Homo sapiens: one gene and its partners. The protein of the gene in region 1 purifies or fractionates together with the protein of each later gene. This does not show direct contact. Each region holds a gene or a part of one and is shown in the gene's direction. Other genes may lie near its edges. The genes, in order: LZTFL1, LANCL2 and SH3PXD2B.

The links.
Region 2: the proteins of LZTFL1 (region 1) and LANCL2 fractionate together in Homo sapiens (co-fractionation; one large-scale study listed by BioGRID). This does not show direct contact.
Region 3: the proteins of LZTFL1 (region 1) and SH3PXD2B fractionate together in Homo sapiens (co-fractionation; one large-scale study listed by BioGRID). This does not show direct contact.

The regions. Positions count from the first base shown.
Region 1 is NC_000003.12:45,832,042-45,835,695, reverse strand, and holds part of LZTFL1 (leucine zipper transcription factor-like protein 1), read left to right. Parts: coding exon 1-106; intron 107-1,397; coding exon 1,398-1,458; intron 1,459-2,574; coding exon 2,575-2,646; intron 2,647-3,654. UniProt on the Homo sapiens protein: Regulates ciliary localization of the BBSome complex. Together with the BBSome complex, controls SMO ciliary trafficking and contributes to the sonic hedgehog (SHH) pathway regulation. May play a role in neurite outgrowth. May have tumor suppressor function.
Region 2 is NC_000007.14:55,368,272-55,371,925, forward strand, and holds part of LANCL2 (lanC-like protein 2), read left to right. Parts: intron 1-3,654. UniProt on the Homo sapiens protein: Necessary for abscisic acid (ABA) binding on the cell membrane and activation of the ABA signaling pathway in granulocytes.
Region 3 is NC_000005.10:172,349,971-172,353,624, reverse strand, and holds part of SH3PXD2B (SH3 and PX domain-containing protein 2B), read left to right. Parts: intron 1-3,035; coding exon 3,036-3,262; intron 3,263-3,654. UniProt on the Homo sapiens protein: Adapter protein involved in invadopodia and podosome formation and extracellular matrix degradation. Binds matrix metalloproteinases (ADAMs), NADPH oxidases (NOXs) and phosphoinositides.

The DNA.
Region 1 (3,654 bases):
TCATCAACACTGCCTATACCAATGTGTTACTTCTGCGACAGCTGTTTGCACAAGCTGAGAAGTGGTATCTTAAGCTACAGACAGACATCTCTGAACTTGAAAACCGGTAATAAAATTTGAACTTGCAACTGTGACAATAATGGCCCAAGCATAATCTTAAAAGTTAGTGAACATCTTTGGCTGCATATTTTCTTGGGGCTAGTGTGTGAGGAAATTTGGGTAGGGTAACAGCAAAGCATTGAGTCACTGAGTGATCTCTTGGGTACCACTAAGCACCCTTTTAAAAGTTCTCTGTTTCTACTGTTCCTAGGTATTACAAAGGCCATCGAGATTTATGAAATTGCTTTTCAGGCTATCATTAATTATTTCTTACAGCATTTTTGTTAGCTTGGTCAGTATTACCATCAGTCTTTATAGATTGGTCAACTAAGAAATAGAGATTATGAGACAGTTGAAAAGTCAATTCAAATATAATAAATACCATCAATTCAATCCAGTAGCATTGGAAGTTTTCTAAATAATGGAATTTAAAAGTATACATTTATTAACTTTGAAATAGGAAATATACAAAAAAGCTTATAATATGGACATCTAAGAGCTCAAATTCAAAAAATATGGTAAAATTGGTGAAGTTGAAACTCATTTTAAGAAAAAGCATGCCAGAAATCAGGAAGGACTGACCGCCAAGCCCCGTGAACTACTCTAAGCACAGTCACAGCACATCAGTTCACATGCAGAGTGTTGAACAACGCTGAGGACAACCTATGAGCTGGGGAGGAAAATCATTGAACTTCTGCCACTGTCAGTAGATGACTGGTGAGAAAACTCTGAGAAGGTGGTGCTTTAAGAAGCTTAGAAGCTGACTGCTGTTAACACTCTAAGCTTGTGTGTAGTCACTTCTCATTGGCCTTTGCAAATCTTCAGATGGCACACCCCCACTATCTGTCTTTCCTAGGAATTTGTGGTACTCTTTTTCAGTAGATACTATGGACTATTTTCATTTTTCTGAGACTACTTTATTAAGAATCTTTTTTGAACACCTACTAGCTAACAATACACATTATGTAATAAAACAGTCTCCTCATAGCACCTCAAGAATACAAAGTTGACTATAAATTTTCCTCATATTTGTATTAACATTATGGTTTATTTCTAGCAGTAGATATTGCATACCTAGTAGATACAAAATGCCAGGTACTGTGGATGATTACATTTGAGTCCATGTGGTTTAGGTTCTCAACCATTTGCAACTAACATTTTTGATATGGTGAAGTTTGGTCCATCTTGCTCTGTTCTCTCTGGCATGTAATGGGTTGGTACCAGTGATTTTACTCTTCTTGCGTGTGATATAAATCTATTTTAAATGAATAATTTTTATCTTTGCTTTCTTCTTCAAGAGAATTATTAGAACAAGTTGCAGAATTTGAAAAAGCAGAGATTACATCTTCAAACAAAAAGGTAACTTTTTGGTCATTCTAAATCCATATCTTAATAGCCAGTATTTAAAATCCTCAAGTTGCTCAAAGAATTCAGAGATCAAAACTGAGAACTCTTAAGGAAAAGCATTCAATTCAAGAGTAAAATTCAGAAATTGTCTATCATATTTTCAGGCAAAAGAAAAAATGTTTTGGAAGTAACTGTGAAAAACTGCTTTTGTCTGTGATGGCTTACACATACACATGATCCCTAAGTTCAGTCTCAATCCCACTCATAAATACTCTACTCAGAAGATTCAGAGCGCAGGCTGTAGGGTCAGCCACACCTGGGTATACATCCTGGCTCTGTCACTTCCTGGCTGTGTTACCTTGAGCAGGTTATCTGAGGTAGCTGAGCTTCATTTTACTCATCTGACAAATGGAGACAATACTAGTAGTTATCTACCTCTCTTTCTAATCATTCTCATTAATTGGAGTGGCCACTTACCATTCCACTTCACGGGCACACCGTAAATACTCCATTGTTGGATAAATACTGCTGAGATGAATCTATGTACATACACATGCAAAATACTTTCCAGTTATTCCTTTGGGTCATATTTATGGCTAAGAAATTTCTGGATCAGAGGGCATGAATTATTTTATTTTTAATATATATTACTAAACTACTATATTATTTGTGCCAAGTTATTGTTTATCTGTATTATACTTGCCTAGATCTTCATCAATATTATTGTTTTTCACAGAGTCTAAGGTTCATGTAGAAATCACTGTTTCAGCTCCCACAGGCTAAAATTCTAGTTGCTAGATGCTAGGCTCTATATCAGATCTGGCTTTGAGCTCCTTCCGTCCCTCCTTTCTTCCCTCATTTTCCTTCTATCTATATATTTTTAAAAGATACAGGGAAGATAGGTTTTATTTTTGTCTCTAACATGTATGGGGCACTGTAGGACAGGCATATCCTAGGCACTGGGAGTAACAAAGGATGAAACCAACAGAAATCTCCACACCTGTGGAACTGACATCGCAGTGAATATGTTTATATATAGTATCTTCCACTTGCAAAGTGCAAGTGTTCAATGATTATACATGCTTTATTCTGTGGTGATTTCAGTTTGGTTTCTTTATTTTGTTTCAGCCCATCTTAGATGTCACAAAGCCAAAACTTGCTCCACTTAATGAAGGTGGAACAGCAGAACTCCTAAACAAGGTAATATTATTATTTTGAGAAACGGAAAGTCTCTCATTCTGTCCTGTCATTGCCTAGGGTGGAGAAACAGAAGTGGAAGGTTTGTTTCAGGTCCTCTGAGGATAATTAGTCCATTGCAGTAGTTTTACTTGATGGTACCCCATGGGCCAGAAGAGGGCATACTTAACCTTCTAGAGAGCCTGAAGTAGCTCCTGATCACACCTTTTCAAGGTAAAGTGAAGAGCATGAAATTTTGGACAGCGTTTATTGATGGACATTTAAAGTTTGTGATCTGCGGTAACAAGGAGAAGGGTTTTTAAGTTTATAAAAATTATTTATCAATTAGCCGGGTGTGGTGGTACGTGCCTATAGTCAGAGCTACTCGGGAGGCTGAGGCAGGAGAATTGCTTGAACCCGGGAGGTAGAGGTTGCAGTGAGCTGAGATCACGCCACTGCACTCTAGCCTGGGCGACAGAGCGAGACTCCATCTCAAAAAAAAAAAAAAATTATTTATCAGCACAGGTTGAGTATCCCTTATCCTTGGGACTAGAAGTGTTTTGGATTTCAGATTTTTGAATATTTGCATTATACAGACCCCAGTTGAGCATCCCAAATCCAAAAATCTGAAATCTGAAATGCTCCAATGAGCAGTTTCTTTGAGCATCATGTCAGCACTCAGAAAGTTTCTGATGTTGAAGCATTTCAGATTTCAGCTATTTTTCATGACCCTTGTATTCTCAACATTATGCTAGATGTTGTTAGAAATAAAAAGCAGTGTAATACCTGCTCCCTTGCCCTCAAAAATGTAATAGTTTGGGTTTTTTATTGTTGTTTGTTGGTTTGTTTTTTTGAGACAGAGTCTTGCTCTGTCGCCCAGGCTGGAGTGCGGTGGCGTGATCTAGGCTCACTCCAAGCTCCACCTCCCGGGTTCACGCCATTCTCCTGCCTCAGCCTCCGAGTAGCGCCTGCCACCACGCCCGGCTAATTTTTTGTATTTTTAGTAGAGATGGGGTTTCACCATGTTAGCCA
Region 2 (3,654 bases), on another chromosome or scaffold:
CCTCAGTTATATACCTGATTTATGTTGAAAAGAAAATTAGACTACAAGTAACTAATGGGGCTTGTGATATCTCTGCAATGAAATGTAAGTTGGGGTGGGGACCTATGCCAGTGGTTGTGAGTATATGCTAAAGAAAGAAATGGACATCATATTATTCTTGAATATGAAAATGAGAGCACGTTGAAGGGAGAGATGGATAGTGATTTTAAAAGGTGGAAAGATTGCTTCTTGGTTATTGGAAAGTCATCAGATAAAATGAATATGAGTTGAACACTGTCTTCCCTATTAATATTTTTTATGATTGACATTAAATTTTTGGTTTTAAAAATCTGTTAAGAATGCAATTTGAGGATATCACACTATGCACTGTTTTTGATAGACATGAAATTTCATGAAAATGAGGGTGTTATGGGTTGAATTGTGTCCCCCACCAGAAAAAAAGGTATTGAAGGTTGAAGTCCTAACCCATTGGAACCTCAGAATGTGACATTTGGAAATAAGGTCATGGCAGATGTAATTAAGATGATGTAATACTGGAATATGATGGGCCCCTAATCCAATATGACTGGTGTTCTTATATGAAGAAAAGAGAAGCAGGTATGATGGCTCATGCCTGTAATACCAGCACTTTGGGAGGTTGAGGCAGGAGGATCACTTGAGGGCAGGAGTTCAAGACTAGCCTGGGCAACATAGTGAGACCCTGTCTCTTTTTTAAAAAGAATTGTAAAAGAGAAGAAAGAGACATAGGGAGAAAGAAGATGGCCATGTGATGATGGAGGCAGAGATTGGAATTGCCAGCCAACACCAGAAACTAGGAGAGGCAAGGAAGGATTCTCCTCTGTAAGTTTGACAGAGAGCATGGCCCTGTTGATACGTTGATTTTGGGGCTGTAGGCTCCAGAACTATGAGAAAATAAATTTATGTGGTTTTAAGCCACCCAGTTTGTTGAACTTTGTGGTATCCCTAGGGTAACTTGTTAATTTGTAAGTTAAGCATTGAATAATTTTCTCTCCATGATGTTACCGAGTAATGATTACAAAAATCTACCAACACAATAACATTTTATTACTAAGTATTCTTTAAGTCATTCACTCTATCTCATTTTAGTTTGGCTGCCTAGGTATGTGGTGTGATCAGTCAATAAAATTATCCTCTGATTCTAAAACCACTCAAGTCGGCTTCTCTGGGCCATATTTCCATAAATTGGTATTTATAACATTTTTTACAATATTGGGCCAATATTATGAAAAGCAGTGAACCAGTGTAGTAGCAGTTGTTTTTAATTATGGAAAGCCTGTGACGCAGACACTCTTAGTTACTCATCTAACAGCCATTTCCTCCTTTTTACTTGATTTTGTTGTGGCCGTGGACTTAAGGGGAATTGAGCCCAGCTCTAGGAGCTGAATCATGATTAATGTCTTTGACCAGCAGCAGCAGCAGCTTCAACTGATGTTCAAGTCCAACCAGGAGATGGGTACCATGCAGAGTTTAATAGGGAAAGTTTAACTTAAAGAATTGTTATGAACTGTGAGACTGGAGTAACAAGAGATTGTCTCATGAGAAGGAAAGAGAACTCTGAAGAGTGTAGGAATAGCAGACAGAAGGAGCAGCCCCACCCCTAGGGCTGAGAGGGCACTCGAGTAAAGGCCCCTGTGATTAGCTCTGTTGCTGTGTAATAATTATCCCAACACTTAGCATCTTTATAAACACTTACGATCTCATGCAGTGTCTGAGAGTCAGGAATCCAGCTGCAGGTTAGCTGGGTGGTTCTGGCTCACGGTCTCTGGAGAAGCTGCACTCAAGCTCTGAACCAGGGCTTCTGTCATTTTGAGGCTTAACTGGGAGAGAGAATCTGCTCCAGGCTCATTCACATGGTGGTTAGTCGGCCTTGCTATGTGTTTTCTGGAGGCTTCAGTGTCTAACCACATGGGCTGCTCCTTAGGGCTGCCTCATGACATAGTGGCTGTCTTCCCTGAGACTGAGTGATCAAAGAGAAAAGTATGCAAGAGCACCCAAGATGGAAGCTGCAGTCATTGTATTTATTATGTAATCTCAGAAGTGACATACCATCACACCTGCCATATTGTATTCTATTAGAAGCAAGACAGTAAATCCAGCCCACGCTCAAGTGGAGGGGTTATACAGGAGCATAAATACCATGAACTGTAGAGTCCTCAGCCAGGGCTGAAATCTTGAACTTGTCAGAGAGGTCATTGCCATACCTCATTGGTTGGGAGAGAAATTGCTGTGATACTGCACCATTGCTAGGTGTAGCCTCCAGAACCCTGCAATGAGTATTACAGTAAGTGACAATATGTAAAGAATATCTTGGGGGCACAAGAGAAGAAAGAAGACGTGTTAATTCTGCCCATTCGCATCAGGGAAGGCTTTTTAGACTAAAATGATACTTTCATGGTCCTTGAAAGATTAAGTGGGGGTTTTCTAGGCTCAGTTAGGGAACTCCATGAGCAAGGACTTAAGGGATACCACATTATGAGAATATCAAGGAGTACGGCATGACTGGAGAAGAGGGAGCGTGAATGGCACTGGGGAGTATTGAGGCCGAAGACAGTGATTGGAGTTGATGCTGAAGGACTTGATGGATTGGAAGGATTCTTTTAAAATGAAATTTAAAATTGTATATTTAAGGTATACCACATGGTGTTATGTGATACATATAGGTAGTAAAATGGTTTCTATAGAGAGGCAAATTAATATATTCCCAATGTCACATAATTACCCATTGTTTTTTCTGTGGCCAGAGCTGCTGAAATCTATTCACTTAGCGTGAATCCCACATCCAGTGCATTTTTATTACCTGTAGTTTTCATGTTGTGCCTTAGAGCTCTAGACTTGTTTGTCCTGCATATCTTCCATTTTGTATCCTCTGACCATTTCCTCTCCTTCCTTCAACCCACTGCCTCCGGTAATAACTGTTTTGTTCTCTATCTCTGTATAGTTTTGGGTTTTGTTTTGTTTTTTTTCGAGACAGGGTCTCACTCTGTTGTAGGCTGGAATGCAGTGGCATGATTGTGGCTCCCTCCCGAGCTCAAATTATCCTCCCACCACAGCTGCCTGAGTAGCTGGGACCACAGACAGGTACCACCATGCCCAACTAGTTTTTGTATTTTTTGTAGAGACAGGGTTTTACCATGTTGCCCAGGCTGGTCTCAAACTTCTGGGCTCAAGGAATTTTTCCCAGCTCATATGCTGCTGTTTCATTTTAAGAATTGTTTCCTTTGCTGTGCAGAAGCTTTTTAATTTGATATAGTAATATTTGTTTATTTCTGCTTTTGTGCCATGAGCTTTTGGTGTCATACCAAAAAATTATTGCTATGGCCGGTGTCCAGGAGCTTTTCCCCATGTTCTCTTGTAGGAGTTTTATAGTTTCTGGTCAATCCAAAGGACTTTACAACTTTTTCCACAGAAAAAAATCAGGAAAACTTGTCTGTAATTTGATACAATCTTAAGCTATTGGAAATGCTTCAGTTTATAATTATTTAATTTTCCATATTTTTGTTTTGAAGCTTTAAAATTTGTTTAACCTCATAATATATCATGGAAGCATAAGGAAATCAGTACTACCCTAATACCCAGAGAAATGTAATTTTTTTCTCTTTATTCAAAATGAACTAAATTGTGTGTGTGTGTGTG
Region 3 (3,654 bases), on another chromosome or scaffold:
GGTTTCCACCTCCAGATGTTTCTCATAATGAGGAGTTGGAGGCCAAAGCTGCCCCATGTGAGTGACAGCCCCCTCCCGCCCCATTCTGAGAACAAGATGGTGCATAAACACTCATGGACTGTAATTCGTCCTAGGCTGATAATCTGCCCTCGTCTCTCAAAGTCCAATGGTAAAAGCAGGGCGTCTGCATTCCAAACACCTTTCACAGCCCTTTCACCTATGTGATGATATCAGAGCCTCCCAGGCAGGCAGGGTGGCCAGCTCGTCCTGCCTTGCCTGGTTTTAGTAATGAAAGTCCTGGGAACCCCTCCTTGATCACCCCCAATAGGCAGGATGTGACCATGGGAAATTAGGGCAAGAGAGGAAGCCGAGGTCCCTGCAATCTAGTGTCTGCGCTGTGATGTGTGGCGGGACATTCGGGCCATTTCCAGGAGGCTGAGCATGTAGCACTGCATTCATTCATTCATTCAACAAACGCACACCAAGAATCTCTGTTGGGCCCAGCCCTGTTCTGGGAGCTGAGGAGTCAACAGTGAGCAAGATACAATAGCTCACACCACCTGGTACAGAAGACAAACTCATAAACGGTGATAGAGCAGAGGGTTGGCCATGTTGGAGGGATGCATGGGGACTTTGGTACACAGAAGAGGGGCTCCTCAGCCTGGGGGTCAGGAAGGCTTCCTGAGGGAGATCTCAGAACCTAAATTTGAAAACGGATAATGATAGTAATAGTGTATTAGTCTATTTTCATGCTGCCGATAAAGATATACCCCAGACTGGGAAGAAAAAGAGGTTTAACTGGATTTACAGTTCCACATGGCTGGGGAGGCCTCAGAATCATGGCGGGAGGTGAAAAGCATTTCTTACATAGCATCGGCAAGAGAAAATGAGGAAGAAGCAAAAGTGGAAACCCCTGATAAATCCATCAGATCTTGTGAGACTTATTCACTATCACGAGAATAGCATGGGAAAGACTGGCCCCCATGATTCAGTTACCTCCGCCTGAGTCCCTCCCACAACATGTGGGAATTCTGGGAGATACAATTCAAGTCAAGATGTCGATGGGGACACAGCCAAACCATATCAAATAGCAGGCATGGGCCTGGCACGGTGGCTCATGCCTGTAATCCCAGTACTTGAGGAGGTAAGGCAGGAGGATCACTTGAGGCCAGGAATTCAAGACCAGCCCGGGCAACATAGCATGATCCCATCTCTACATAAAAATCTTTTAAATTAGCCAGGCATGGTGATGCACGCCTGTAGTCCCAGCTACCCAGGAGGCTGAGGCAGGAGGATCACTCGAGCCCAAGAGTTTGAGGCTGCGATGAGCTATGATGGTGCCACTCCAGCCTAGGCAGCACAACAAGACCCTGTCTCTAAAATTTAAAGACATTAGTTTTTTTAAACTTTTTAAAAAAGGATAACAAACATATATTGAATAGTATGTTATCTTGCTGCATAATAAATTGTCCCAAAAGTTAGTGGCTCTGGAATTCAGCAGTGGCTTAATTAGACTCAAGGTCTCTCCCGAGGTTATAGTTAGGATGTCAGTAAGGGCTGCAGTCATCTCAAGATCTGACTGATGCTAGAAAGTGACAGTCAGGATTTCAGCCCATTCCCTTCTCACCCCAGAGCCCAGTCAGCACTGCACATCGCCTCCCATCTTATGGCTCTGTGTCCCCAAACAATGAACTATGTCAAACTGAGCGTGTGGGTTATATACAGCCTGGCACTTTCTAATTAGGATATTCCCTCTCAGAGCATATTTTAAGATTGATAGACACTAAACTGCAGATTTCTACCTCCTTTTAAATTTGCTTCCAGTCAAGAGAGACCTTTTTTTTTTTGCATTAAAACCCAATGCTATTTAGTTCTTAAATTAATTCTTGACAAGAGATTCAGCCCTGCCATTGGGTCTGTTCAACTTTCCCCAAAGGTCTGGCCACCTGTTTTTTTGGGTTCTGGTAAATGTTTAACAACCAGCTCTCCAAGGAAAAATACTCTGAGTTACAGTGTTTGCCAGTTGCCATGGTGCAAATACTGCCACCATGGTCAATTTCAAGCTATCAGTGTGATGTCACTAAATGTAGAGATTGGGAGAGATGTGCCCAACTGGCTGTCACAGCTGGTGTGACTGACTGCAGCACACCCCTGGTCTAGATTGGCCCCTCTGGTCATTGCTGTTAAACTGAATTCTGGCCAAGCGTGGTGGCTCACACCTGTAATCCCAACACTTTGGGAGGCCGAGACAGGAAGATCACTTGAGTCTAGGAGCTCAAGACCAGCCTGAGCAACATAGCAACACCCCATCTCTACAAGAAATAATAAATAGCTGGGCATGGTGGTGTGTACCTGTAATTCCAGCTACGTAGGAGACTGAGTTGGGAGAATCGCTTGAGCCCAGGAGTTCAAGGCTGCAGTGAGCTATGATCGAACCACTGCACTCTGGCCTGGGTGACAGGGAGACCCTATCTCAAAAACTGAATGTCTCCTGCAGAGGATTAAGAGATGATGACACTCATTGAAGTCCCTTTTGGGAGGACACTGAGCTGCTCTGTCAGGGTCTCGATCACTCTGCGGTTTAGTGATGGCCAGCTGCCACTTGGCGAGCCCTGGACCCAGCCCTCAACCTGCTAATCCCATATGAAAGCATGTTTAATCTCCACGTTCATCAGCGTGAACAGATCTCCATCTGTCTATGCCAGGCTTTGGCCCCAGAGCTGGGGCTGCTGGGAAGAGGCAGCAAAGCACAGAGATTCAGAGCCCAGGCTGGTGCCCTGCTGGCTGGGTGGGACATGGTGGGTGCTGTAAGAGGGGCAAGTAGAGGCCGGGTTGGAAAGGCCTTGAAAATACCAAGCTCAGGGCTTAGGCATCATCAAGAGGAAATGCACAGTGTGTGCCAACCTCTTGCCCTGGGCAGTCACAACCCGTCGTTCCTGCTCCCTGGGACCTGTCATGTGATTCCCAGTAGGAGCAAGGCTTCTTCCCTTGGGCCTGGCGGAGCAGTTTGACAGCATCCTTCCTCCTCTTCACAGGTACCAGGGCAAAGAAGGCTGGGCCCCCGCCTCCTACCTAAAGAAGAACAGTGGGGAGCCCTTGCCCCCGAAGCCAGGCCCTGGCTCACCCTCCCACCCGGGTGCCCTTGACTTGGATGGTGTTTCCCGGCAGCAGAACGCGGTGGGCAGGGAGAAGGAGCTGCTCAGCAGCCAGAGGGACGGGCGGTTTGAAGGCCGCCCGGTGCCCGACGGTGACGCCAAGCAGAGTGAGTGACACCCGCCCAAGCTCCTGATAATCAGGGCCCCTGTGTGCCAGCTCTGTGCTCAAGGCGTCTCACATCGTCCCTCATCCTCACAGCAGCCCAGCTGCTCCCCCATCCTCCAGATAAGAAAACAGAGGCCCAGAAACCCCGGGTAACTTATTCCAGATCATTCAGCCCGTGAATTGCAGAATCTGAGTCAAGAGGCATTGCTGGCCGGGCACAGTGGCTCACACCTGTAATCCCAGCACTTTGGGAGGCCGAGGCAGGCCGATCACCTGAGGTCAGGAGTTCAAGACCAGCCTGGCCAACATGGTGAAACCCCGTCTCTACTAAAAATACAAAAATTAGCCAGGCGTGGTGGCAGCTGCCTGAAATCCCAGCTACTTGGGAGGCTG